4 linked regions of the Homo sapiens genome follow. The protein of the gene in region 2 interacts with the protein of the main gene of each other region in a biochemical or structural test. Each region holds a gene or a part of one and is shown on either strand. Other genes may lie near its edges. The genes, in order: CTSG, CFP, TXN and AZU1.

Region 1 (7,448 bases), on a different chromosome or scaffold from region 2:
ATTAGGTGGGGCCTTTGGGATGTGATTAGGTCGTAAAAGCTGAGCTCTTTGAATGAGACTAGGTCCCTTGTAAAAGAGACATCAGAGAATTCCCTTGCCCCTTTTGCCATATGTGGACACAGGGAGAGGATGGTTGTCTGTGAACCAGAAAATGGGCCCTAATTAGACACTGAATCTGCTAGTGACTTGATCTTAGACTTCTTAGCCTCTAGACCTGTGAGAAATAAATTTGTTATTTATAAGCCACCCAATTTGTGCTATTTTGTTGTAGCAATCCAAACAAACTAAGTACTGAATGACGTTTAATGAACAAATGAGGAATTGGTTATTTATACTCTGTGGACGTTTATTAAGGCTCTGGCAACACTGTGGAGCTGGCCTGTGTCCCCGAGAAGAAGAGTCAGTCACAGGGGGGTCTCCATCTGATCCAGCAGTTTGAAGCTTCTCATTGTTGTCCTTATCCAGGGCAGGAAACTTGAGACCCTGGTGAAGACTTCTGGAGGAACCCCTGACGACTTTCCATAGGAGACGATGCCGTGGGCCACATTGTTACACAGCAGGGGGCCTCCGGAATCCCCCTGTAGGTAGAGAGGAGAAGGGAGACTGAGACAGGCCTCCCTGCTCCTGCTTCCCTGAGCTCCGGGCTCTCAGGGAAGGCAGGGGTGGGTGGGCCCCTTCAATTGCTGGGTGTGTGTGAGATGGAAGATCGGTGGGGTACAGGAGCCAAGCCTCTGGATCTTTTCGGTCGCTGGACTTCAGCTCTGCCTTAATTACTGTCTCCAGCCCAATCTGAGTCAAGGTACCTCTCCCTTCTCCAGGAGAATGTTGCCTATGTATGTGTTGTGGGTCTTCCTCCTATTCCCCCAGAGACCAGGTTGATGGGGAAAACAATCCCCAGCCCACCCTGGTCTGGCTGCCAGGCTGAGGCTGTGGGGATGGAATCTGTTCGCACTGCCTGGCTCTGCACGGGCCCCTCTCTCCCGGGGTGTGTTGGCCAATGCCCATGCCTTACCTTGAAGGCAGCCTTCCGTTCCCGCCGGTCCCCCACACAAATCTGCCTTCGGGGGTCGTAGGAACCGAAGATGCGGAGGCACTGCCTATCCCTCTGCACTCTCAGCTGCACCTCTCGGAGTGTATCTGTTCCCCTCCTCATGCTGACCCTGCCCCAGCCGGCCACAGTGCACAGCGTCCCGGGTCTCAGTCCCTCCTGGGCTCTAGGCAGAGCCACTGGGTTCACGTTTCGATTCCGTCTGACTCTTCTGCTCAGCTGGAGGAAGAATGTAGGCGTTCCCGCTCAGCTGGGGCCTCCAGCCAAGGCTCGGGGGTCGCTGGTGCAGTACACATCCCATGCCCTCCCCGCCACCCCGGAGCCTTGCCCTCACTTCCTCCTCCATTGTCCCCGGACACACTAGGAAGGAGCCAGAGGGCCAGGTAGGTGGTACCTGCAATAACATGATGTCATTCTGGATGGTCCGCTGATTATATTGAGGGTGGCGGATGGCTCTGCGCGCAGTGATGTGTTGCTGGGTGTTTTCCCGTCTCTGGATATTGTGGGCGCCCAGGGTGACATTTATATTGCTGCAAAAGCAAGAGGTAGGTCTGGGCTGCAGGAGCTATGGTCCACCAGCTCTGCAGGGTAGGCAGACAGCACGGGGAGGGCAAGACTGCAGCTAACCAGAATCGAGGGGATGGGAGGGCCCTGGGGCTCAGCTGTATCCTCTTTCTCAGCAGCTCTGAGCTAGGGATGACAGGGTGGTACTTGCCTTCAGGTTTGCTTCCCCAGATTAAGTTGATAAATAGCCTGAGTTTATATTTTGAGCCCCAATATGTGTCTTCCATCTCTTCCTCTTGCTCTTTTTGATCTTATCCTCCTTTCCTCCTCATTTACACTGGCCTGTTCCCTCCCGCAAAGACTCACTTGGTCTTTCTTTCACCCTTTCATTGCTACAACTCTTCTTTCAGATGGCTCTTCCACCGAAGAGCTCCGCAGGGCTGTGTTCCTGGCTGGCCAGGAAGTTCCTTAGCTCCTCACCTTCCCCAGCAATGAGCTGCTGTCAGCACAAAGTCTTCTCGCACCAGGAACCCTCCACATCTGCTCTGACCTGCTGGACTCTGGATCTGAAGATACGCCATGTAGGGGCGGGAGTGGGGCCTGCTCTCCCGGCCTCCGATGATCTCCCCTGGAAGGAAGCATTTGGCACTTAGCTCTATGCTTGCTGAACCTGCAATGTGGGTACCAGATTGGTGGCTCCAGAAAGGCTGGAAGATGGGGACGGCAGGAGAGAGGGTGCAGGAGAGGGAGGAGATGGTGCTGAGGCTTGGAGTCTATGGGGCAGCAGATTGGGAGGGGGCTCCAGGGTTCTACAGGAAACACTGCTGTCTTGAAAGGAGCCCTTTTCCCCATCCTAGGCCTCACCTCCCTCCTCCTCTCCAAAAGAGGGAGAACAACCCTTGTTCCAGGCAAGGCCAGCTTCAGCCTCAGGTATTGAGGAGAATGCTTTGCTGTAAGTACAGGATTGTTCCTGAAGTTCCCTTATACTTTTATCCTCATGGAGCTTCCCAGAGCCCTCTGAGTCCAATTCAAGACCACGTGGGACTGGTGTTTAAAAATCTAGACATGAGCTGATGGTACTGTTATTGCTGTATTCTTACCTCCTAGGTAGGGTCTGACACATGCTGCCAAATTATTTACACAAAGCATGTTTTTATAGCACTTATAGTGTGCGGGCAATTCCAAGACATTTAAATACTCTAACTTATTTAACTCTCATGGCAACTCTGCAAGATCGGTATTAATATTATTCTCATTTTATAGATGAGGAAACACAAATTCAAATAACTTGCTCAACAGTACAGAATTAGGATATACCAAGGCAATTTGGCTCAAGAATCTATGGGATGAGGTCAGGCCTCTGAGGGTGGGGATGGTCACTCACCTGCCTCAGCCCCAGTGGGTAGGAGAAAGGCCAGCAGAAGCAGGAGTGGCTGCATCTTTCCTGAAAGGCTGCCCAGTCAGTTGCTGCTGTGCTTCCTCCTCCTAGACTTTAAGGCCCTGAGAGAGGAAGGAAGGGGTGGGGACAGGGGATTGAGAATTCACAGTCCCATTCTCCTGCTACCATGAAAGGTTTCATCACCCAAGGCTGCTCAGGAAGTTTGCCCACAAACTGCCGGAGATGTGGGTGAGACCGTGTAATCCAAGCCAACATAGTGAGCTCTTGAGCAGCTGCTAAGTCAGTGCCGAGAGCAGAAATAGGAACCCAGCACAACAAGGAAGGGGCTTGGGGCATTGTGTCCAGAACCCTCAACCCATCAAATTCCAGAATACTCCAGCAAAGCAAGAAAGCTGGCAGCTGCCCACTTCCTGTTTTCTACTCCTCTGGGATTAGATCATTATTGCTTTTGAATTTCTGGGTTTCTCCTAATGAATGCAAGTTCCCTGGATTGCTTATCTGTATATACTTAATAAGTCTGGGACAAGGATGAATGAAAGGGTGTGGTGTGGTGAGGGATGTGGGTAAGAACATCAGGAAAAAGTTGAAGGGGGCAGAAGAGGAAAGGGTAAGCCTGCCTGCTTTCAGTGTTTGGCCCAAGACCACCCTGCTGAGACCCCTGTTGCTCTAATTTCTTTCTAGAAGCTGTCAAGTCAGATTGCGTAGGCACTCTCCTGAGTAGGTGAAGCGTGCGGCTGGAGAAAGAAAAGGAAGAACAAGGCTCTGACAATCACAATTACTTTCTTAGGTCACTTGAGTCCTCAGTGAAAATTGTGACACAATTGAAGACTTCTGCTTGCCTGTCTCCTACCCAAGGTTAAAGTCCTTATGTTCCAGACGGCTCCTTGCTTGCAGAAAAGGCTTAGTAATTTGGTTTTATTGGGAGCTGTCGTATCCTAGCTGGAAAATATCTAATATCCCATTTCACTGGTGACATTAGAGGCCCATCAACCTAATCCCAGGAGCAAAAGCTTCTGAGAAGGAGGTACATTCATTGCTGTGCTACCTATAAAAGAATTAGAGCCGCATACTCAACAATGGGAGAAAAGAACAGCAAATTACTGCAGAGTAACACAATGGATTATTAAAAACACTTAAAATATTTAGAAGATTCTGTGTATGCACAGAAAACCGTTATAATCCAGTATAATTTTTGCAGAAATAGCAGAATTGAAGACTAATACAATTCCCAATCTCTTTTTTTCTGTCTTTTATTTTGAAAATCTTTTACTTAGGTATTTATTTTTAACTTTTATTTTAGGTTTGGGGGTACATGTGAAGGTTTGTTACATAGGTAAACACATGTTACGGGGATTTGTTGTACATATTTATCACCCAGATATTAAGCCCAGCACTCAATAGTTATCTTTTCTGCTCCTCTCCCTCCTCTTACCCCACTGTCTGTTGTTTTCTTCTTTGTGTTCACAGTTCTTATCATTTAGCTCCCACTTATAAGTGAGAACATGTATTATTTGGTTTCCTGCATTAGTTTGCTAACTAACATGTATTATTTGGTTTCCTGCATTAGTTTGCTAATAGCCTCCTGCTCCACCCATGTCCCTGCAAAGGTCATGAGTCCATTCTTTTTTATGACTGCATATGTATATGTACCACAATGTATATGTACCACATTTTCCTTATCTGGTCTATTGACGGGCAGTTAGATTGATTCCGTGTCTTTGCTTTTGTGAATAGTGCTGCCGTGAACATTTGCGTGCATGTGTCTTTATGGTAGAATGATTTATATTCCTCTGGGTAAATATCCAGTGATGGGATTGCTGGATCGAATGGTAGTTCTGCTTTTAGCTCTTTGAAGAATCACCATACTGCTTTCCACAATGGTTGAACTGCTCCCACCAACAGTGTATAAGTGTTCTCTTTTGTCTGCAACTTTGCCAGCATCTGTTATTTTTTGGCTGTTTAGTAATAGCCATTCTGATTGGTGTGAGATACAATTCCCAGTCTTTATGGAGTATAATAGGCCCTCTTGAAAATCTCATGAAAATTAGGGTTCCTTTCCTTATACATAAATATATAATTTTTTCACTTATTTTTAGAGCTGCACAGAGCTTAACCTCTTCTCTTGTACAGGCTCTATAAAACGTCTTTATGCATCTGAAAAGTAACGTGAAGAAGAAGGGAGCAAAGAGAGAATAGTATAGCACCTTTATTAGTGCCTTAGCATTTGGCATAATTTAATTTATTAAAAATTTTCAACATTTTGTTTTGTTTTAAAAATGTTAGTTTAACTTAAAAATAGAAGAAAGGGATAAAGAAAAACCTGCACATATGAAAAAAAAGGAGTAAAATATATGCATTCACTCATGTAATAAAGATTGATTAGGAAATTTCATTAATAGTGACCTAGAATTTCATGCAATCTTCTCATTAAAAGTAATCAAAGCTATTTAAGATATCTAAAAAGCTTACAAACCTCGAAGAACTACCAGCATTGAAGTGACTATCAGATCAAGTTGAAGGAATAATGAGAGTCTAGTTAGGAAGCTGCTATTGTTCCAAGGGAATGTGCTGAATCCACAAAATTTCAACTTTTGTTTTTGATGACCACATTAAGGAGAAATCTGTAGAAAATATTTAAAGTATGCTATATAGTTTCTTCTGAAGAACGGATGCTACCCTTCCCTTTATGGGACTAGCATAACCTCCATGCCAAACCCAATAGAGACAATATAGAAATGAAACATTATAGGTCAATAAACTTTTGAATATTGATGCAAACCAAATCAATCAATAAGCAAATAGATATTAATATATCATAAGTAATTTGGGTTTATTCTAGGAACACATAGTTGACTTTTCATTTGAAAAGCAAAATTGCTGTAACACATCATATGAACTGACTAAAGAAGAAACATCATGTGATTATTTAATTGAAACAATGAAGGCCTAAAATTTACCCTTATTTACTTAAAAAATACTCTTAGCAGACTAGGAATAAAAAGAGTGTCTTTAATCTGATAGAAGTTATCACAAAATTCCCACAGCAATCATTATACCTAATGGAAAAGTGTTAAAACCTTTTTTTGAGAGCAAAACATTACAATAATGCCTGAATACAAATTATTATCAGTTCTGTTCAACAAACAGTACATTAGCAGTTTTAGCCAGTGCAGTTAGGTAGGAAATGGAAATGAAAGGTATAAAGACAGGAAAAGAGAAAACAAAATTGTAATGATTTGAGGAAGTGATAGTATACGTAGACAATCCAAAATCATCTACAGGTAAATTACCATAATTAATAAGAGTTTTACAGATTTGCTAGAAAAAATCAATTTAAAAATTAATCATATTTCTACATGTACTGCAACACTGTTAGAAAGAAATTTTTAGAAAGTAATACTTAAATGGCATGGAAATGATCAAATAACTAAATGTAAATCTAAAAGAATATGTGAAAGACCTCTTTGGTGAAAATTATAAAACTGAATGAAGAGACATTCAAGAAGACCTAAACATGAAGAGATTCCATGTTCATAGATTGGAAGAAGACTAAATATTGTAAAAATGTCAGCTCTCCCAAAATTGATCTATATAGATTCATTGCACCGAGCGGTATTTTATAGAACTTAACTGATTGTAAGTATATTTGGAAAACAAAAGGCTAATGATAGCCAGGTCACCATTAGAGAATGAGAATAAGATGGAAGACTTGCTTTTGCAAACAAAGCCATGGGAATGAAGATAGCGTGGTATTGATGAGGCATAGAAACATGGACTAATGGACCAGAAATAAGGACTCCACACGCATGTGGACGCTGACATACACATGGATGGATTGATTTATGATGGATGTTGCATCTTTCATCATAATAGGGAAAAGACTATTTTCTTTTTTTATCCCCAATAAATGGTACTGGGATAATAAATTGCCTTTATGGTGTCCTATAGAGACAAATATTTTCTATGTGGAAAAATAAAACTTGACCTTCTTCTCCCAAAATATCAAAAAACCTATTCTAGGTAGATTATGGATCCAAGTAGGAATAATGATTTGAATATATAATGGAAGAATATCTTCATGATAGGTAAAGATTTTAGTACTGTATATAAAGTACTAATAATGAAGAAAAGGACTGATGAATTTGACACATCTAAATTGAGAGAAACAAAAGACCATTCATGGAGTAGGCAAAGATGCTTGAAATACACATAAACAACAAAGGGCTTATATTCAAATTACATAAAGAACTCAGAAATCTGGCCAGGTGCAGTGGCTCACCCATGTCCCAGCACTTTGGGAGACCGAGGCGGGTCGATCACTTGAGGTCAGGAGTTGGAGACCAGCCTGACCAACATGGTGAAAACCTGTCTCTACTAGGAACATACACAAAAAAATTAGCCAGGATGGTGGCACATACTTGTAACTTCAGCTACTCGGAAGGCTGAGGCAGGAGAATCGCTTGGGGAACTGGGGAGGCTGAGGTTGCTGTAAGTGGA
Region 2 (7,526 bases):
TACAAAAGAGCTGAGCAAATGAGACATGCCAAGTGACCACGTGACAGTGTGTGAGAAACTTGTAAAGCTGTGCACGTGTGTCCGTGATGAGCTGACCATATGAAGAAAATGACGGTGTGCACGACTGAGAGGGCATGGGTGACTGTGGGTGACTTATCGAGGGCCTAGTGGTGATTGTGAAATACTGACCGAGTATATCAGAAGCTGACTGAGGGACAGTGATGACTGAGACAGTGGCTGAGAAACGGATTGTGTGTCCATGGGTAAACCCTTTGCAAGAGACTTTATGAAAGGCTGTAAATCAAGGACTGAGGGTACTGGAAGCTGATTGAGAAGAAACGTGAGACTAGGTGACGACAGTGTCTGAGATACTGTGTGATTGTGTATGCGTGTGAATGTCTTTGTGGGAGAGGCTGTAATCAGGGATCGTGGGTGTGTGAAAAAGTGGCTTGAGTGAGAAAGGGGTAGGAGAGGTGATTTTTGTGCATGTGTGGGAAACTTCATGAGAGACTAGTTAGTGGTGACTATAAATCAGTGACTATTTGTGTATGTGAGAAAGTAACAGGCCAAATGAGTGCCTAAACGTTTCATGAGATTGTGTGACTGCACGTGTATGTAAGGAACTGACTGGTGAGAGAAACTATTGGCAATATTGACTGAATGAGACAGGCTGTTAAACATGATTGTGTGTGTGAAACTGTTAGGAGACTGTAGTAAGGCTGGAATCCATGACACAGAAAATGACTATGAGTGACAGAATGTCTGAGAGGCTGTGTGATTAAGAGAATATAGTAGAGGCTGTAAATCCGGACTGGGTGCGGTGGCTCATGCTTGTAATCCCAGCACTTTGGGAGGCCAAGGTGGGAGGATCACTTGAGGCCAGGAGCTTGAGACCAGCCTGGGCCACATGGTGAGACCCCGTCACTACTAAAAATTTAAAAAATTAGCATAACGTAGTGTTGTGCACCTGTAATCCCAGCTACATGGGAGGCTGATGTGGGAGGACTACTTGAGGCCAGGATTTTGAGTTTGAGACCAACCTGGGCAACATAGAAGGACCCTGCCGCTACCAAAACAAAAAACAAAATTACCCAGGTATAGTGGTGCATGCCTGTAGTCCCAGCTACTGAGGACACTGAGTTGGGAGGATCGCTTCAGCCCAGGAGTTTGAGTTTGAGACCAGCCTGGGCAATGTGGCAAAACCCTGTCTCTCCAAATAGTTTAAAAAATTAGCCAGGTGTGGCGTGTGCCTGTAGTCCCAGTTACTCGGGAGGCTGAGGTGGGAGGATGGTTTGAGCCCAGGAGGTTGAGGCTGTAGTCTGCGATCACGCCACTGCACTCCAGCCTGGGTAACAGAACCAGACCCTGTCTCGAAAAGAAAAGAAAGAAAAGAAAAACATAACTGTGTAGATAGGTTTAAAAAAAAAAAGAGAGAGAGAGAAAATAACAGACCAAATGAGACTGTGTGAGAGGTCTAATGCCCTGCAGACCCTCGAATGTTCCAGGCCCTGGAGAAAAACCCTCTTCTGTTTTTCCTGTTCCTCCACAGGCCCCTCCTGCTCAGTCCGCTGGGCTGGCTTCTCCTACTTCTCTAAAACTTGAAATGCTGGGGTTCCCCAGGGCAAAGCCCTGGGATTCCCTTCTCTCTTCTCACGCATCCTCTCTAGGTCATCTTATCCAGGTCTTCACACTTGAAATACTACTTATCCTCCATGGGATGCCCACATTTTTACCTCTAACTCAGACTGTCCTTCTGGCATTTTATCGTAATCTCTAAAGTTTTGTTTATTTCATTGATTGATTCATTTAGCAGATGTTTATTGAGCATCCACTGTTTCCTGGTGCCTATCTAATGCCCTGCAGACCCAGCAGTTAACAAGCCAGACAAAAATCCCTGCCCTTGTGGAACTGATATTTAGGGAGTGAGAATAACAAGAAGCAGGCAAATACATAGTAGCAGGTAGGGATGTAATAATTAAATAAGACAAGACTCTCACTCTTTGTTTAAGGAATCTGCAGTCATTTTATTGCCTAAACGTGTGGGAAAAGATAGAGTGCTGACAGTCCTCTTCCACAGGGAATCCTATGAGTATTTATACAGTTTAGAAACAAAGGAAATATTGTTAATATTATTACCAGGGCAACAGGTGGTTAAATAAAGAAGCCAGCCAGAATTTCAGGTTTCTTTCTTTTTTTTTTTTTTTTTTTTTGGGACAGAGTCTCACTCTGTCGCCCAGGCTGGAGTGCAGTGGCACGATCTCAGCTCACTAGAGCCTCTGCCTCCCGAGTTCAAGCGATTCTCCTGCCTCAGCCTCCCAAGTAGCTGGGATTACAGGCATCCGCCACCACGCCTGGCTAATTTTTGTATTTTTAGTAGAGACGGCGTTTCACCATGTTGACCAGGCTGGTCTCGAACTCCTGACGTCAGGTGATCCACCTGCCTCAATCTCCCAAAGTGTTGGGATTACAGGCGTGAGCCACCATGCCTGGCCAGTTTCAGGTCTCTTGGAGAGTGTTTTCACAGGATAACACAGCAATGATTGTCTTGAAGTCGTAGAATCTTAATAAGACTCCTTTGTTCAAAGCACATTTTCAAGGATAGCCTTATGTTATCAGAGAACAGAGTATGTCTGTAATGGATACAGATATTAACACATACTTTACTGCCCATAAAACAAGTGTTCCTGAAGAACTTCTGTTTTAACAGCTGACCAAATTATTACATTTGAATTTGCAGAATTCCTCTGCCTCCCTGAGAGCAGAGGAAATTAGGCATTGCCTTCCTATCTTTCTTGTGCTTCTTTTTGTTAATTAAAAGCAAAATAAAAATTTTAAAGTGGGCCCTGGAGTTTCATTAGGGTTTATAAAAAAAAAATAAAAAAATAAAAAAAAAAGAAGGGCTGGTGTGATGGCTCATGCCTGTAATCCCAGCACTTTGGGAGGCTGAGGTTGGGAGAAAATATTGAAGCCAGGAGTTTGAGACCAGCCTGGGCAACACAACGAGACCCCATCTATACAGAAAATAAAAACATTAGTTGTGTGGTGGTGTGTGCCTGTAGTCCCAGCTACTTGGGGACGCTAAGGTGGGAAAATCACTTGAGCCCAGGAGTTTGAGGCTGCAATGAGCTATGATCAGACCACTGCACTCCAGCCCAGGTGACAGCAAGACTCTGTCTCTTTAAAACAAAACAAACAAAAAAACAGGTTTGGAAGCTACTGGGCTAGAGAGTGACAGGGATGCCAGACAAGGGTATGGGGAAGGCCTCTGTGAGGAGGGGCAACATTTGTTATCCATCTTCTCGAGGGCCAGGATTTTTGTCTGTCCTATTCTCTGCTCTAATGCTAAGAACCGCATCTGGCATCCAGTAGGTGCTCAATAAATGTTGAATAAATTTATCAAACACAGAGCACCTACTATATGCCAGGCACTGTTCTAAAGACTTTCCAAAAGCTTAACTCCTGGCCGGGCACGGTGACTCACGCCTGTAATCCTAGCACTTTGGGAGGCCAAGGCAGGTGGATAACCTGAGGTCAGGAGTTCGAGACCAGCCTGGCCAACATGGTGAAACCCTGTCTCCACTAAAAATACAAAAATTAGCTGGACATGGTGGTACACGGCTGTAATCCCAGCTACTCAGGAGGCTGAGGCAGGAGAATTGGTTGAAATCGGGAGGCAGAGGTTGCAGTGAGCCGAGATCGTGACACTGCACGCCAGCCTGGGCGACGGAGTGAGACTCCATCTCGACAAAACAAACAAAAGCTTAACTCGCAATCTTTGCAACACACCCTACCTATGTTGTAGGTGCTGTCTGTGAGCACATTTTACAGAGGGGAAACAGGCTCCAGAAGGGGGGTGTTATCTGCCTGAGGGTTCTCTGATGGAATATGGCCCAGCTTATTCCCTCCTAATCACCCCAGACCCTGGTGTTGTCCCCAGCTGGGCCCATGGAACAATGGATAGACCCCATTCCCCTCCTGAATCCCTCCCCAGGCTCCTGCCACTTCCCTTTCTCACTTCCCTTGTGCTGACCTCCCCGACCACAAGCTGACCACAGGGAACCTCTCAGGAAAGGAGGGCCGAGGTTAAGGGAGGGTGGAAGGTGGAGCAACTGACTCGATGCTCCCTCCACCCCCACGAGCAGGAACATACTGAGCACCGCACACTCACTTCACCCTGGTTCAACACCCCCACGAGGTTGACCCCGTCATTATGTTAGAGATTATGCATTTTCCACATAGGGAAACTGAGGCTCAGGGGTGTTAAGTGACTCACCCAAGGTCACACGGCTAGGAAGTTGCTGCACGCTCCTATGCTCCATTTCCTCTGGGTGAGAATTTGTCCTAGGAGCTTCTATTGAACACTGTGAGGTTGCTGGGAGGAGCGCGAGGTGCTGGGGATATAGTAACAAACAGAACAAGACCAAGAGTAAGACAGGAAATGGGGAGGGGAGAGTAGAGAAGGAGGCAGAGGGGACAGGGTGGGGTCAAAGCAGGATGCCCTCCCAGTTCCTCCTGCCTCTAGGTTCCTCTTTCCCTGCTGATTCCAGGAGCCTATCAACCCAGATAAAGCGGGACCTCCTCTCTGGTAGAGGTGCAGGGGGCAGTACTCAACATGATCACAGAGGGAGCGCAGGCCCCTCGATTGTTGCTGCCGCCGCTGCTCCTGCTGCTCACCCTGCCAGCCACAGGTGAGGGGGTGAGGGCCCAGCTGGCCCCAGGGGTGTCCAGGCCCACCACATCCCTGACCGAGCCCCACCCACCCATCCCCTGGCCCTGTTACAGGCTCAGACCCCGTGCTCTGCTTCACCCAGTATGAAGAATCCTCCGGCAAGTGCAAGGGCCTCCTGGGGGGTGGTGTCAGCGTGGAAGACTGCTGTCTCAACACTGCCTTTGCCTACCAGAAACGTAGTGGTGGGCTCTGTCAGCCTTGCAGGTTAGGGGGAGCCTGGGGTGGGGGATGGGGGGGAGGGAAGGACTGTCTGTGGGGGTCACCCAAAACTGGGCACTTTCTTTCTCTGGGACTTCCAAGGGTGGCCCTGAGGCCCTGATCGTGACCATACCTCAGGGTTTCTCAACCTTGTTACTATTGACATTTGGGGCTGGAAATTCTTGGCTGGGGGAGGGGATTGCTTACCTGTGTATTGTGGGATGTTTTGTAACACCCCTAGCCTTCCACTAGATGCCAGTAGCAATTCTCCCCACCAGCTGTGACAACCAAACATGTCAGCAGACATTGCCAAATGTCCCCTGGGGGTCAAAATCACCCCTGATTGAGAACCACTGACATAGCTCACACATATTGAGCACCTCCTGCACACTGGAAGCATTGCAGGTGGGGTGCAGCTTGGTATTTCCCTAATTTTGATGACAGCTCATGTTTATTGAGTGCTTACTGTATATGGACACACTGTGGGGGCGGGAAAGTTTGGGGAATTCAAAGGGCAGCTCTAGGCCCCTAATTATGATGACACTTCACATTCATTGAGCACTCCCTGTATACCAGCTGCATGGCAGGGTTGGGAGATGAGCTTGAGGATTTCTGAGGGTAGCTCTAGTCTCCTGATCATGATTTCCAGCTTGCATGGATTGAGCCCTTACCGTATGCCAGACCTGTTTTCTACTTGTTTACTATATATCCCAGATACACCGTGGGCATGGGGAGCTTGGGGATTTTTGAGGGCAGCTCTGGGCCCCAAGTCATGTCAACAGTTCATCACATCTATTTGGCATGAACAGCATACCTAGGGCTATGCAGTGGGTTGGGGATAGATCTGGGGTTATTTCTGAGGAGGCCTCTGAGGTCATAGGGATGATGGCTCAGGTTTATTAAGCACTTTCTATTTACCTACTACCGTGTAGTGTGGTGATCTGGTGGGTTTCTGACAGCAGCCCTTGGTTTCTAGTCCTTACCTTTGCTTACTGCGGACCTGGTGTTGGCCATGCAGCCTTCCAATGGTAACTCCAGATGCCTGATTGTGAAGGTAAATGACATTATCAAGCACTTATTGTATATCCACTGCTTCCCATCAGTATCCCAATATCCCTAAAAGGTAAGGACTTATCAATCCATCGCACACGCACTTGCCTAGCAACCCTTCGTGTCTGCCCACACTCTGGAGTCCCACATGCCATTCTTGTTAGCTCATGCCAGGATGGGATGTGTGTGCTCTTCTCCACAGGTCCCCACGATGGTCCCTGTGGTCCACATGGGCCCCCTGTTCGGTGACGTGCTCTGAGGGCTCCCAGCTGCGGTACCGGCGCTGTGTGGGCTGGAATGGGCAGTGCTCTGGAAAGGTGGCACCTGGGACCCTGGAGTGGCAGCTCCAGGCCTGTGAGGACCAGCAGTGCTGTCCTGGTGAGGAGGATGAGCAAGGCGGGCAAGCACTCCCTGTCACCCAGCACTGGTGGGAACGATCGGTACAGAGGTCCTCAGAGTGGGCCCGTCCCCAGTGTTTGTAAGGACCTAAGGAGGAGAGTGGTGGGAGGTGAGGTCAGAGAGGTGAGGAGGGTCCATTGCCTGGGGGCCACAGAGAGGACGTTGGCTTTTCATCTGAGTAATTTGGACTGTGGGCAGAGGAGGAACGTGATCTGACTGGGGTTGGGAGGAGAACAGACTGTGCACGGTGAGGGTGAGAGGGGAAGCGGAGGCACCCATGTGAAGGTTGCTGCGGCAGGCCCGGTGAGCGGGGATGGTGGGCCCAGAATGGTGGCAGAGGATATAAGGACAGGATTAGCTCATGTGGGGCACTCAAGGAAGCAAAGAGCCCTGAATGACACCCCACCTCCATCCCATTACCCTCTCTTCTCTCCCACAGAGATGGGCGGCTGGTCTGGCTGGGGGCCCTGGGAGCCTTGCTCTGTCACCTGCTCCAAAGGGACCCGGACCCGCAGGCGAGCCTGTAATCACCCTGCTCCCAAGTGTGGGGGCCACTGCCCAGGACAGGCACAGGAATCAGAGGCCTGTGACACCCAGCAGGTCTGCCCCAGTGAGTGAGGGAAGCCACAGGATGCTGATGGGTGCACCCAGCGTGGGTCTGCGGGGTTACAGCAGGGAACTGCCAGGCTGAGAGGACTTTAGCATGCATGACCACACCTGCATCCCTCCACCTCCCACCCCACCACAGCACACGGGGCCTGGGCCACCTGGGGCCCCTGGACCCCCTGCTCAGCCTCCTGCCACGGTGGACCCCACGAACCTAAGGAGACACGAAGCCGCAAGTGTTCTGCACCTGAGCCCTCCCAGAAACCTCCTGGGAAGCCCTGCCCGGGGCTAGCCTACGAGCAGCGGAGGTGCACCGGCCTGCCACCCTGCCCAGGTACACCAGGATGAGGCTGCTGATGTTGCTGGTGGGGCTCTTGATTGAGGGCAGAGATGCTCTGCCATTTCTAGAGTTCCTAGGCCATGTGACCATGCAGCCCTTCATTTGGGGACAGTCTGCTTCAAGGGTCTAGGGGCTGAGAGGAAGGATTGAGGAGGCCTTTCTCCTCACTCCCTTTCCTCCTCCAACAGTGGCTGGGGGCTGGGG
Region 3 (3,242 bases), on a different chromosome or scaffold from region 2:
AGTGGTTCTATATTTCTTTCCCAGTCCTCTTTTGAGTGCCTGGCTGACATTTTCAATCTCTATTGGGCTCCAAACCAAACCAGTTTCGTGGTATTGTCCTCCAAACCTTGCCCTCTTATAGCATGAACAATGTGTTGAGCATGGGGTATTATAAGAGTTCTCATTTAGCATTCCACAGTTGAGGAATGTGTGTTACTTCAATTACCTTTGAGCTGTAGAAAAATCTTTAGCTGTGGTAACAGCCACTTCTAGGAGAGGAGAAAATACGGATCAACTAGCCCAATTTGCGATGTTAGGAATTTGTCGATTTTCTTAGTAGGATGGCTTTCAAAGGTTAGAGCATCAGAGTCACCTGAAGCCCGACTTTAACTGTAATGGTTTAAGATGGGGTTGATGGGGAAACTTGTAGTACCCCTCAGGTAATTCTGATACTGCAGCAAGGTTTGAGAATTCACAAAGTCTTTTTATTTTTCCTCCCGAGATAGTCTCATTCTGTCGCCCAGGCTGGAATACAGTGGCATGATCTCAGCTCACTGCAACCTCCGCCTCCCAGGTTCAAGCAATTGTCCTGTCTCAACCTCCTGAGTAGCTGGGATGACAGATGTGTGCCACCACACCTGGCTAATTTTTGTATTTTTAGTAGAGATGGGGTTTCTCCGTGTTAGCCAGGCTAGTCTCGAACTCCTGACCTCAGGTGACCCACCGGCCTTGGCCTCACAAATCAGTTTTTAATTAAAAATAAGCAGGAGGCTGAGTGTGGTGGCTCACACCTGTAATCCTAGCACTTTGGGAGCCCGAGGAAGGTGGATCACTTGAGCTCATGAGTTTGAGACCAGCCTGGGCAACATGGAGAGACCTTGTCCCTATAAAAAAAAAAAAAAAAAAATATATATATATATATATATATATATATATATATATAGTGTGTGTGTGTGTGTATATATATACACACACACACACAAAATTAGCCAGGTGTGGTGGCGTGTGCCTGTAGTCCCAGCTACTGGGGAGGCTGAGGAGGGAGGATGGCTTGAGTCTGGGAAGTGGAGATTGCAGTGAGCTGAGACTATGCCCCTGCATTCCATCCAGCCTGGGTGACACAGCCAGACCCTGTCTCAAAAATAATAATAATCAGTAAACCCAGTGTGGGGTTATTCCTTTAGATTACTATTATTTTGTTCTTGAACAATTGATTTTTATTTTTTTAGACTTTTTAGCCTTTATATAATCATTCTGTGTACTCTGCCTTCATAATAAAACTGGAAAAATTATGAGCAAGAAATAAGAGGTACTAGTTCTGAGGAATAGTTAAGATTATCATACTGAGTCCAATTGTAGCAGAATTTTTTGTTGCTTCTTTGTATGATACTTAAAATAGTTGAAAATTTGATTGGATTAAAGAGCATATTGGATCGCTGGAGTATCTGATGCTAGTAACATTCTGAACATTCTGCCTGTTAATGTGCCCGTCAAAGGAAGTAAATATTAATAAAACTTCTTCATTGAGAATATAACCGGTTTGGCTTTTGTAATGCCATTATATTCATTATATTAATTTTCATATGCTGAAAAATGTCCTCATGCGGAAATGTGGGGTACATGACAGGGAAAAGTTTCTGGTTTTGGATTACTTCTGTCAAAGCTCAGTACTCGCAGTCTTGTATTTAATCCTCTCCCTTTGCTACTTTCCCTACCAGGATGTTGCTTCAGAGTGTGAAGTCAAATGCATGCCAACATTCCAGTTTTTTAAGAAGGGACAAAAGGTACGTACATCTGACCTTTAAAACTCTAACTGGGCAATAGGAAACCCAGTATAAGTGAATAAATCACTGGAGTGATGTTCCCTTTAAAGATTGAGGCATATCACCAAGTTCTGCTTTTAAGAATTTTTAAATATGCCAAAATTCATTGGCTTAAGTACATAATGTGACAGCTAACTGAAAATCAATCTTTCCTAGAACTAGTCCTATTTATATCATAAAGCACATAGAATTTCTTAGACTTGGGCAGTTCATTTGTTGTTAAGTATTGTGTAAAAGAAAATTTGTACTTGAGCCTTTTGACTTTTCTCTTGATATTTTTTCTTTGTTTATAACTTAAATGAACTGTATGTTATTCAGGGAAGTTTACTTTAAATAAGATTATACTTCTTTTTCCCTCCACCCCTATTCTTCCTTCATTCTATGCTGAATACATATTTATACATATGTATATATATACATATGTATATGTATATATATAAATACATATTTATACATATTTTATGTATAAAACAGTGCTACAGTGCTACGTCTAATGTCAATTCAATATTCTCTTAACAGGTGGGTGAATTTTCTGGAGCCAATAAGGAAAAGCTTGAAGCCACCATTAATGAATTAGTCTAATCATGTTTTCTGAAAATATAACCAGCCATTGGCTATTTAAAACTTGTAATTTTTTTAATTTACAAAAATATAAAATATGAAGACATAAACCCAGTTGCCATCTGCGTGACAATAAAACATTAATGCTAACACTTTTTAAAACCGTCTCATGTCTGAATAGCTTTCAAAATAAATGTGAAATGGTCATTTAATGTATTTTCCTATATTCTCAATCACTTTTTAGTAACCTTGTAGGCCACTGATTATTTTAAGATTTTAAAAATTATTATTGCTACCTTAATGTATTGCTACAAAAATCTCTTGTTGGGGGCAATGCAGGTAATAAAGTAGTATGTTGTTATTTGTTATCTTTTGACAGAGAAAATAGCATTCTCTGTTTTAGCAGGTGAATCCTCTATGCTCTCCAAAAGATCAGCATGACCAAAATTGATGTCCACTCATGAAGGACTTGTTCGTTTTGTTTGTTTGTTTTGCCACGAGGATCGGATCTTGATTCTCCTCGAAGTATCTGAGAAAGTCTAGTTGTATAGGCCAGACATAGGTTCTGTCTTGAGTGGTAAAAGTTGTGGGAAATTATTACTTATATCATTCAAAGAACATTGTTTCTTGTGTTCTAAGCACAGTAAGGGGTTGGGGGTTTGAAGAAACTTTTTGAGTTTACATAATAATGAAGAGCAGAATTATCATATGCCAGGTATCATCTTTCTATTAATTCACTTAATCTTTGTAACAATCCTATTAGATATAGACACTATAATCCCCATTTACCTGTGAGGAAACAGACAAAGGGTGGTAATTTCCCCAGCATCACAACTAGTCATTGGAGGAGCTGGGATTTGAACCAAAGAAGTCTGGTAC
Region 4 (7,444 bases), on a different chromosome or scaffold from region 2:
GTCACGTTGACAAACCTGGGAAAACGGGAGAGACGCCCCCCACTGCGCTGGCTCCCCCAGCCGGCCACCTGGCATCTGGTGCCGGCTTCCACCGTGGCGTTCTGCAGAGGCAGTGGCAGTATCGTCACGCTGCTGGTGAGGTTGGCCTCACGGTCCAGCTGGGGAAGGAAATGGAGTCAGGGGAGGGTGGCCCTGGGGACTGGAGCCTCATGGGGACCCCTGGGAGCAGAAGTGTCAGCGACATTAACTGTAGTCTGTAAGTGGTTTGCGTTTAATTCCCGGCAGGGGCCGGGTGCGGTGGCTCACGCCTGTATTCCCAGCACGTTGCGAGGCCAAGGTGGGTGGATCACTTGAGGCCAGGAGTTCGAGACCAAACTGGCCAACAAGGTGAAACCCCCGTCTCTACTTTTTTAAATTTTTTAATGATATTTTTGAGATAATTTTATCATTTTCTCAAAGAAAAAAACCAAACATGAAAAACATTCACATGATTCTGTCATAGCAAAAGCATTTGAAAACGACGTCAGTCTCCACCAACAGGAGGCTCCATACGCGAACCGTGGTACATCTGTATGTGTTGCTGTATTGTTTTTGGAAGTTTTTTTTGAGATAGGGTCTGGCTCTGTTACCCAGGCTGGAGTGCAGGGGCGCGATCTCGGCTCACTGCAAGCTCCGCCTCCCGGGTTCAAGCGATTCTCCTGCCTCAGCCTCCTGAGTAGCTGGGACTAGAGGCGCCCGCTGCCATGCCTGGCTAATTTTTGTATTTTTAGTAGAGATGGGGTTTCACCATGTTGGCCAGGCTGGTCTCAATCTCCTGACCTCGTGATCCGCCCACCTCGGCCTCCCAAAATGCTGGGATTACAGGCATGAGCCACCTCACCCGGCAAGATACACACACACACACACACACACACACACACACACACACATATATATTTTTGTAGAGACTGAGTTTGGCCATGTTGCCCAGGCTGGTCTCGAACTCCTGACCTCAAGCCGTCCTTCCGCCTCGGCCTCCTGAAGCACAGGGGCCACAGGTGCGCGCCACCACTCCCGGCTAATTTTTGTATTTTTTTGTAGAGACCAAGTTTGGACTTGTTTCCCTGGCTAACGTCGGCCTCCCGAGGTGCTGGGATCACAGGTGGCACCATCCTCTCACCTGAAGCAGCATCAGGTCGTTCAGGTTCTGCTGGGGGTCGTAGCCATTCTCGCTCATGCTGCTGATGGAAAACGTCTGGCGGGACTGCCTCTCCCGCCGCCTCAGGTCATAGGCACCCAGCACCACGGTGCTAACCCCGGGGTTCCTGAGAGTAGCGGAGGAAAGGGCAGAGGGAGGACACCAGGCTGGGGCCTGGGCACAGAGCAAGCCGGCTTGCAAATTAGGGGGGATCCCAGCCTGCAGACTGCAATCCTTCACCCTGAAAACTCCCCCGCTTTTACAGAAGCAGAGCCGAGACTTTCCAGGGCCCCCTTCCCATCTTGAGCCCCTTCCCTTCTCTGCGCCTCCTCCTCCATCTGAGCCCCTTCTCTTCTCTGCGCCCCCTCCTCCATCTGAGTCCCTTCCCTTCTCTGAGCCTCCTCCATCTGACCCCCTCCCCTTCTCTGCACCTCCTCCATCTGAGCCCCTTCCCTTATCTGGGCCTCCCCCATCTGACCCCCTTCCCTTCTCTGCACCTCCCCCATCTGACCCCATTCCCTTATCTGGGCCTCCCCCATCTGACCCCCTTCCCTTCTCTGCACCTCCTCCATCTGACCCCCTTCCCTTCTCTGCGCCTCCCCCATCTGAGCCCCTTCCCTTCCCTGGGCCTCCCCCATCTGACCCCCTTCCCTTCTCTGCCCCTCCTCCATCTGAGCCCCTTCCCTTCCCTGGGCCTCCCCCATCTGACCCCCTTCCCTTCTCTGCACCTCCTCCATCTGACCCCCTTCCCTTCTCCGCACCTCCTCCATCTGAGGCCCTTCCCTTCTCTGCACCTCCTCCATCTGAGGCCCTTCTCTTCTCTGCACCTCCTCCATCTGAGCCCCTTCCCTTCTCTGCACCTCCTCCATCTGAGCCCCTTCCCTTCTCTGGGCCTCCCCCATCTGACCCCCTTCCCTTCTCTGCACCTCCTCCATCTGAGCCCCTTCCTTTCTCTGGGCCCCCTCCTCCATCTGAGCCCCTTCCCTTCTCTGGGCCTCCCCCATCTGACCCCCTTTCCTTCACTGCACCTCCTCCATCTGAGCCTCTTCCTTTCTCTGGGCCTCCTCCATCTGACCCCCTTCCCTTCTCTGGGCCTCCTCCATCTGAGCCCCCCAATATCCTTGGGTCCCTCCTCAACTCAGTCCCCATTTCCCTCTCCAAGCCCCCTCCTTTCCCTGAGCCCCTCCTTTTGCAATCCCCTCCCCTCCTCACCTACCAAGCACCCCCACTGAATGCCTAAGCCCCCCAAGCCCCTTCTCTGAGCCCCAATGCCCCCTAGGCCCCCTCCCCAGGACCCCTCACTGGCTTTGGAAGCAGCTGGCCGCGGTCATCACGAAGCGGGCATGGATCAGGGCACCCCCGCAGAAGTGCCTGCCTTGATTCTGAATGGAGGCCAGGAACGGGAACTGGCGGGGCCTCGCCTTCCGGCCGCCAACGATGTCCAAAAGGGGGCTGGAGCCTGGGTCGGGGGGAGACAGCTCTGAGATCCCCAAGAATCCACACAGTGGCCGGGAGGGCGTGTGAAGCTGCAGCCTCAGCTCTATCCACCCAGTGGGGCTGCGGGGGGACCCACCCTCCCCCATCGTCCCACTCCCTAAGAGGACAGGGGGCCCCTGAGTCCCGCACACCGTCCGCCCTCACGCCTTTCGCGGGATCGTCCAGGCCGGGCTGGCTGTGTGACCCAGGCCAAGCCGCTTGCCTTCTCTGTGCTTTAAGTCTGAGTTCTGCCCTGGCAGCCGGGCCCTAGCACAGATGGGGGACCACCGGCACAGAGAGGCACTCACCGGCCCTCGAGGACGCCAGCAGACCAGCCAGCAGGGCCAGGACTGTCAGCCGGGTCATGGCGGGGCAGGTCTGTGGCTAAGGCGGCGGCTGCCCTTATACACAGGCCTTGGCAGTTGGTGGCGTCCCCGCCCAGGCCCAGGGACAGCCCCACTCAGTGGGAACACGGGAAATTGCCCAAGGCCTCCACCGCCAACTGCTCCCTGGGCCAGCCTGGGCTCCCCCTACATTCTGCACTGATCCTCAGTTTCCCTCTCTAGAAGATGGCCACACCCCCAGGGGCAGGTGAGGGTGTCAGGAACCAGTGGATCCCGGAGCCCAGCACATGGCGGGCATGCAGCCAGCACCCAGGAACATTGCCAGCTCAGAGTCCCAGTCTCCCCATCCCAAGCCACTGGGGCTCCAGCACTGCCCGCTGGGCCTGGCACCGGGGGGCTCAGGGCAGTGGAGCTGGCAGTCCTGCGTTGAGTCCTGCGCGTCTGTATGGGTGATTATTATTATTATTATTATTATTATTATTTTGAGACGGAGTTTCGCTCTTGTTGCCCAGGCTGGAGTGCAATGGTGTGATCTCGACTCACTGCAACCTCCGCCTCCCAGGCTCAAGTGATTCTCCTGTCTCAGCCTCCTGAGTAGCTAGGATTACAGTTGTCCACCACCACGCCTGGCTAATTTTTTGTATTTTTAGTAGAGATGGGGTTTCACTATATTGGCCAGGCTGGTCTCAAACTCCCGACCTCAGGTGATCCACCCACCTCGGCCTCCCAAAATGCTGGGATTACAGGTGTGAAACACTGTGCCCGATTGGGTGATTTTTTTAAACTTTTTCAACAGCTTTATTGAGATATAATTGACAAGCTGGGTGCGGTGGCTCACACCTGTAATCCTAGCACTCTGGGAGGCCGAGGCAGGCAGATCACCTGAGGTTGGGCGTTCAAGACCAGCCTGACCAACATGGAGAAACCCCATCTCTACTAAAAATACAAAATTAACTGGGCGTGGTGGCACATGCCTGTAATCCCAGCTACTCAGGAGGCTGAGGCAGGAGAATCACTTGAACCTGGGAGGCGGAGGTTGCAGCGAGCCGAGATCGCACCATTGCACTCCAGCCTGGGCGACAAGAGCAAAACTCCATTTCAAAAAAAAAAAAGAAATTAGCTGGGCGTGGTGGCGGGCGCCTATAGTCCCAGCTACTTGGGAAGCTGAGACAGGATAATCGCTTGAACCTGGGAGGTGGAGGTTGCAGTGAGCCGAGATTGCGCCACTGCACTCCAGCCTGGGTGACACAGAGAGACTCCGTCTCAAAAAAAATAAATAAAAACAAATTAAAAACTATATAAAAATAAATAGACGAAATGTCCAGAACAAGCAAATCTGCAGAGGCAGGAAGTGGATCTGTGGTTGCCAGGGGCCGGGGGAGGGCAGGGGGTGATGGCTGATGGATGGAGATGGGGCTTCCTTCTTTGGGGTGATGGAATGTTCTGGGACTGGACAGCAGTGATGGTTGCACAAGTCGGTGAATGCACCGAAAACCACTTCACTGTACCGTTCAAAATGGCTAATTTTAAGTTATGTAAATTTCATCTCCTTCTTTTGTTTTTTTCAGAGTTGAGGTCTCGCTGTTGCCCAGGCTGGAGGGCAGCGGCACCATCTCAGCTCACTGCAGCCTCAATCTCCTGGGTTCAACTGATCCTCCTGCCTCAGCCTCCCGAGTAGCTGGGACCACAGGCACCCGCCACCGTGCCCGGCTAATTTTTGTATATTTTGTAGAGATGGGATCTCACTATGTTGCCCAGGGTGGAGTGCAGTGGCACGATCTCAGCTCGCTGCAGCCTCCGATTCCCGGGTTCCAGCAATCCTCCTGCCTCAGCCTCCCAGGTAGCTGGGACCATAGGCACATGCCACCATGCCCGGCTAATTTTTGTATTTTTTTGTAGAGGTGGAGTCTCACTATGTTGCTCGGGCTGGTTTGAAACTCCTAAGCTCAAGCAATCCACCTGCCTCGGCCTCCCAAAGTGCTGGGAGCACAGGTGTGAGCTACTGCGTCCAAACTCACCTCCATTTTTTACAAAGGGGCTCATTTCCAAGGTGAAACTGAGGTCTGGAGCTTACCGTGTCCCCCACACCCTTGGGGACACCAGTTTGTGTCTGGGCCTGTGGGAGCCCTCTGAGGGCAGTTTGCCCCTCCAAGGGGCGGATACGGGGAGAGTCCAGGGAGGCGGGGCCGGTGTGCCTTGAGGTCCGCTGCCCATCGGGAATGTAGGGTCCCAGGGCTCAAATCTGGTCTCCAGGCCGGGAGCGGTGGCTCACACCTGTAATCTCAGCACTTTGGGAGGCCGAGGCGGGCGGATCATGAGGTCAGGAGATCAAGACCTTCCTGGCTAACACGGTGAAACCCCATCTCTACTAAAGATACAAAAAATTAGCCGGGCGTGGTGGTGGGCGCCTGTAGTCCCAGCTACTCAGGAGGCTGAGGCAGGAGAATGGCGTGAACCCAGGAGGCGGAGCTTGCAGTGAGCCGAGATCGTGCCACTGCACTCCAGCCCGGGAGACAGTGAGACTCCATCTCAAAAAAATAATAATAATAATAATAATTCCGGTCTCCACTGAGTTTCACAGCCCAGCCACCTCACAGGGTCCATGGCACAGCCCCCAGATCCCTGCCTCCGTCCAAGCCAGCTCTCCCTCTCTGCCCACCCCGGATCCTACCTGTCCATCTTCCCTGCGGAGGCCCCAGCCTCCATCCACCCTGTCCTGGCCAAACGTGGGCCTCAGCTCTCCCGTGGGCCAGGCCCCATTTCCCCTCTGCCGGGAGCCGGAAGCTCTGTCCCTCCCAGTCGCATGACCTCAGGGCGAGCTCGCTGTCTGCACGTCAGTGTGCCCTGAGACAGGGATAGACTCTGCCTTCTAGACAGAACAGTGCTGAGCATGGAGTGGGGTTCATATTCTGAAAAGTTTTTGAGGCCGGGCGTGGTGGCTCACGCCTGTAATCCCAGTGCCTTGGGAGGCCGAGGTGGGAGGATCACTTGAGCCCAGGAGTTTGAGACCAGCCTTGGCAACATGGTGAGACCCTCTCTCTATTAAAAAAAAAAAAAAAAAGCTGGGCGCGGTGGCTCACGCCTGTAATCCCAGCACTTTGGGAGGCCAAGACGGGCGGATCACGAGGTCAGGAGATCAAGACCATCCTGGCTAACACGGTGAAACACCGTCTCTACTAAAAATACAAAAGAATTACCCGGGCATAGTCCTGGGCGCCTGCGGTCCCAGCTACTCGGGAGGCTGAGGCAGGAGAATGGCGTGAACCCGGGAGGTGGAGCTTGCAGTGAGCCGAGATCGCGCCACTGCACTCCAGCCTAGACGACAGAGTGCAACTCCGTCTCCCAAAAAAAAAAAAAAAGGCTGGGCTCCGTGGCTCCCCTGTCATCCCAGTACTTTGGGAGGCTGAGGCAGCAGATCAGCTGAGGTCAGGAGATCAACACCAGCCTGACCAACATGGGGAGATCCTCTTTCTACTAAAAATACAAAAATTAGCCCGTCGTGGTGGCAGGCGCCTATAATCCCAACTACTCGGGAGGCTGAGGAGGGAGAATCACTTGAACCCAGGAGGTGGGAGGTTGCAGTGAGCTGAAATCGCACGATTGCACTCCAGCCTGGGCGACAGAGCAAGAGTCCATCTCAAAATAATAGTAATAATAATAATAATCATTTTTAAATAAAAGTTTTGAGCAGCGTCTGGTACGCTCAACCCCTCCGGCCTGCTCGGAACTCTCCCATCACTCAAGCCCAGGCCCCACACTCAAGCCCAGGCCCCTCAGCCAAGCAACGTGCCCTCCATGGCCAGGCCTGCCCCATCTCCACCACTGGTGATCCTAGGGGGAGAAGACCCTGAGACTCCCCCAGATCTTCTGTTGGACCCCCAAGCTGCCAGGAGGGTCCCCCTGCACACTCTCCCACTCCTGACCTCAGAAGGCTCCTGAAAATCAATTGCATTTTCCTCCTCCTCCCCCAGAGAGCTGTTTGTGGTCACCTTGCAACACCCAGATTCCCAACGGCCACTCTGGCCCCGCCTCTCACAGGCCAGGAAAACAGCCGCAGCCACAGCAGGCAACGTCCCCCTTCTCCAGGGCTGTTGGGGAGGAACAGGATCGCATCGAATGGGACCCACCTGTGACCAACTGCTCACAGGGCCTCCCCGAGCCCCCCTGCAGGAACCGGGGGGCCAAAGACCCCTCCCCAGGCAGTCCGTGCAGTCCTGTCCCAGGAAGCTGGGCTGCCTCCGAGTCCATCCAAAGGTAGCAACACCATTGAGTTCCCATCCTATTCCCATCGCCATTTAACTGTTTCCGCATTTATGGCAGGCGACCCTCTTCCCGGGGGCAGCAGTGCCTGTTATGAGCAAACTAAGGTATCTAGCAGGGCTCCAACCCTCTGGAGTCACTGTTTGTTTGTTTTTTTTTTTTTTTTTGAGATAGAGTCTCCTTCTGT

Evidence for each region.
Region 1: the proteins of CFP (region 2) and CTSG form a complex in vitro, tested with the Homo sapiens proteins (one study listed by IntAct).
Region 3: the proteins of CFP (region 2) and TXN form a complex in vitro, tested with the Homo sapiens proteins (one study listed by BioGRID).
Region 4: the proteins of CFP (region 2) and AZU1 form a complex in vitro, tested with the Homo sapiens proteins (one study listed by IntAct).

Annotation. Positions count from the first base shown.
Region 1 is NC_000014.9:24,573,233-24,580,680, forward strand, and holds CTSG (cathepsin G preproprotein), read right to left. Parts: upstream 3,019-7,448; 5' UTR 2,992-3,018; coding exon 2,937-2,991; intron 2,223-2,936; coding exon of another isoform or gene 2,181-2,222; coding exon 2,033-2,180; intron 1,579-2,032; coding exon 1,443-1,578; intron 1,268-1,442; coding exon 1,013-1,267; intron 579-1,012; coding exon 405-578; 3' UTR 286-404; downstream 1-285. UniProt on the Homo sapiens protein: Serine protease with trypsin- and chymotrypsin-like specificity. Also displays antibacterial activity against Gram-negative and Gram-positive bacteria independent of its protease activity.
Region 2 is NC_000023.11:47,626,931-47,634,456, reverse strand, and holds the start of CFP (properdin precursor), read left to right. Parts: upstream 1-4,526; 5' UTR 4,527-4,612; coding exon 4,613-4,688; intron 4,689-4,782; coding exon 4,783-4,933; intron 4,934-6,179; coding exon 6,180-6,355; intron 6,356-6,815; coding exon 6,816-6,986; intron 6,987-7,124; coding exon 7,125-7,316; intron 7,317-7,510; coding exon 7,511-7,526. UniProt on the Homo sapiens protein: A positive regulator of the alternate pathway (AP) of complement. It binds to and stabilizes the C3- and C5-convertase enzyme complexes. Inhibits CFI-CFH mediated degradation of Complement C3 beta chain (C3b).
Region 3 is NC_000009.12:110,243,299-110,246,540, reverse strand, and holds the end of TXN (thioredoxin), read left to right. Parts: intron 1-1,697; coding exon 1,698-1,763; intron 1,764-2,321; coding exon 2,322-2,384; 3' UTR 2,385-2,731; downstream 2,732-3,242. UniProt on the Homo sapiens protein: Participates in various redox reactions through the reversible oxidation of its active center dithiol to a disulfide and catalyzes dithiol-disulfide exchange reactions.
Region 4 is NC_000019.10:823,422-830,865, reverse strand, and holds the start of AZU1 (azurocidin preproprotein), read right to left. Parts: upstream 3,030-7,444; 5' UTR 3,020-3,029; coding exon 2,962-3,019; intron 2,637-2,961; coding exon 2,480-2,636; intron 1,305-2,479; coding exon 1,160-1,304; intron 159-1,159; coding exon 1-158. UniProt on the Homo sapiens protein: This is a neutrophil granule-derived antibacterial and monocyte- and fibroblast-specific chemotactic glycoprotein. Binds heparin.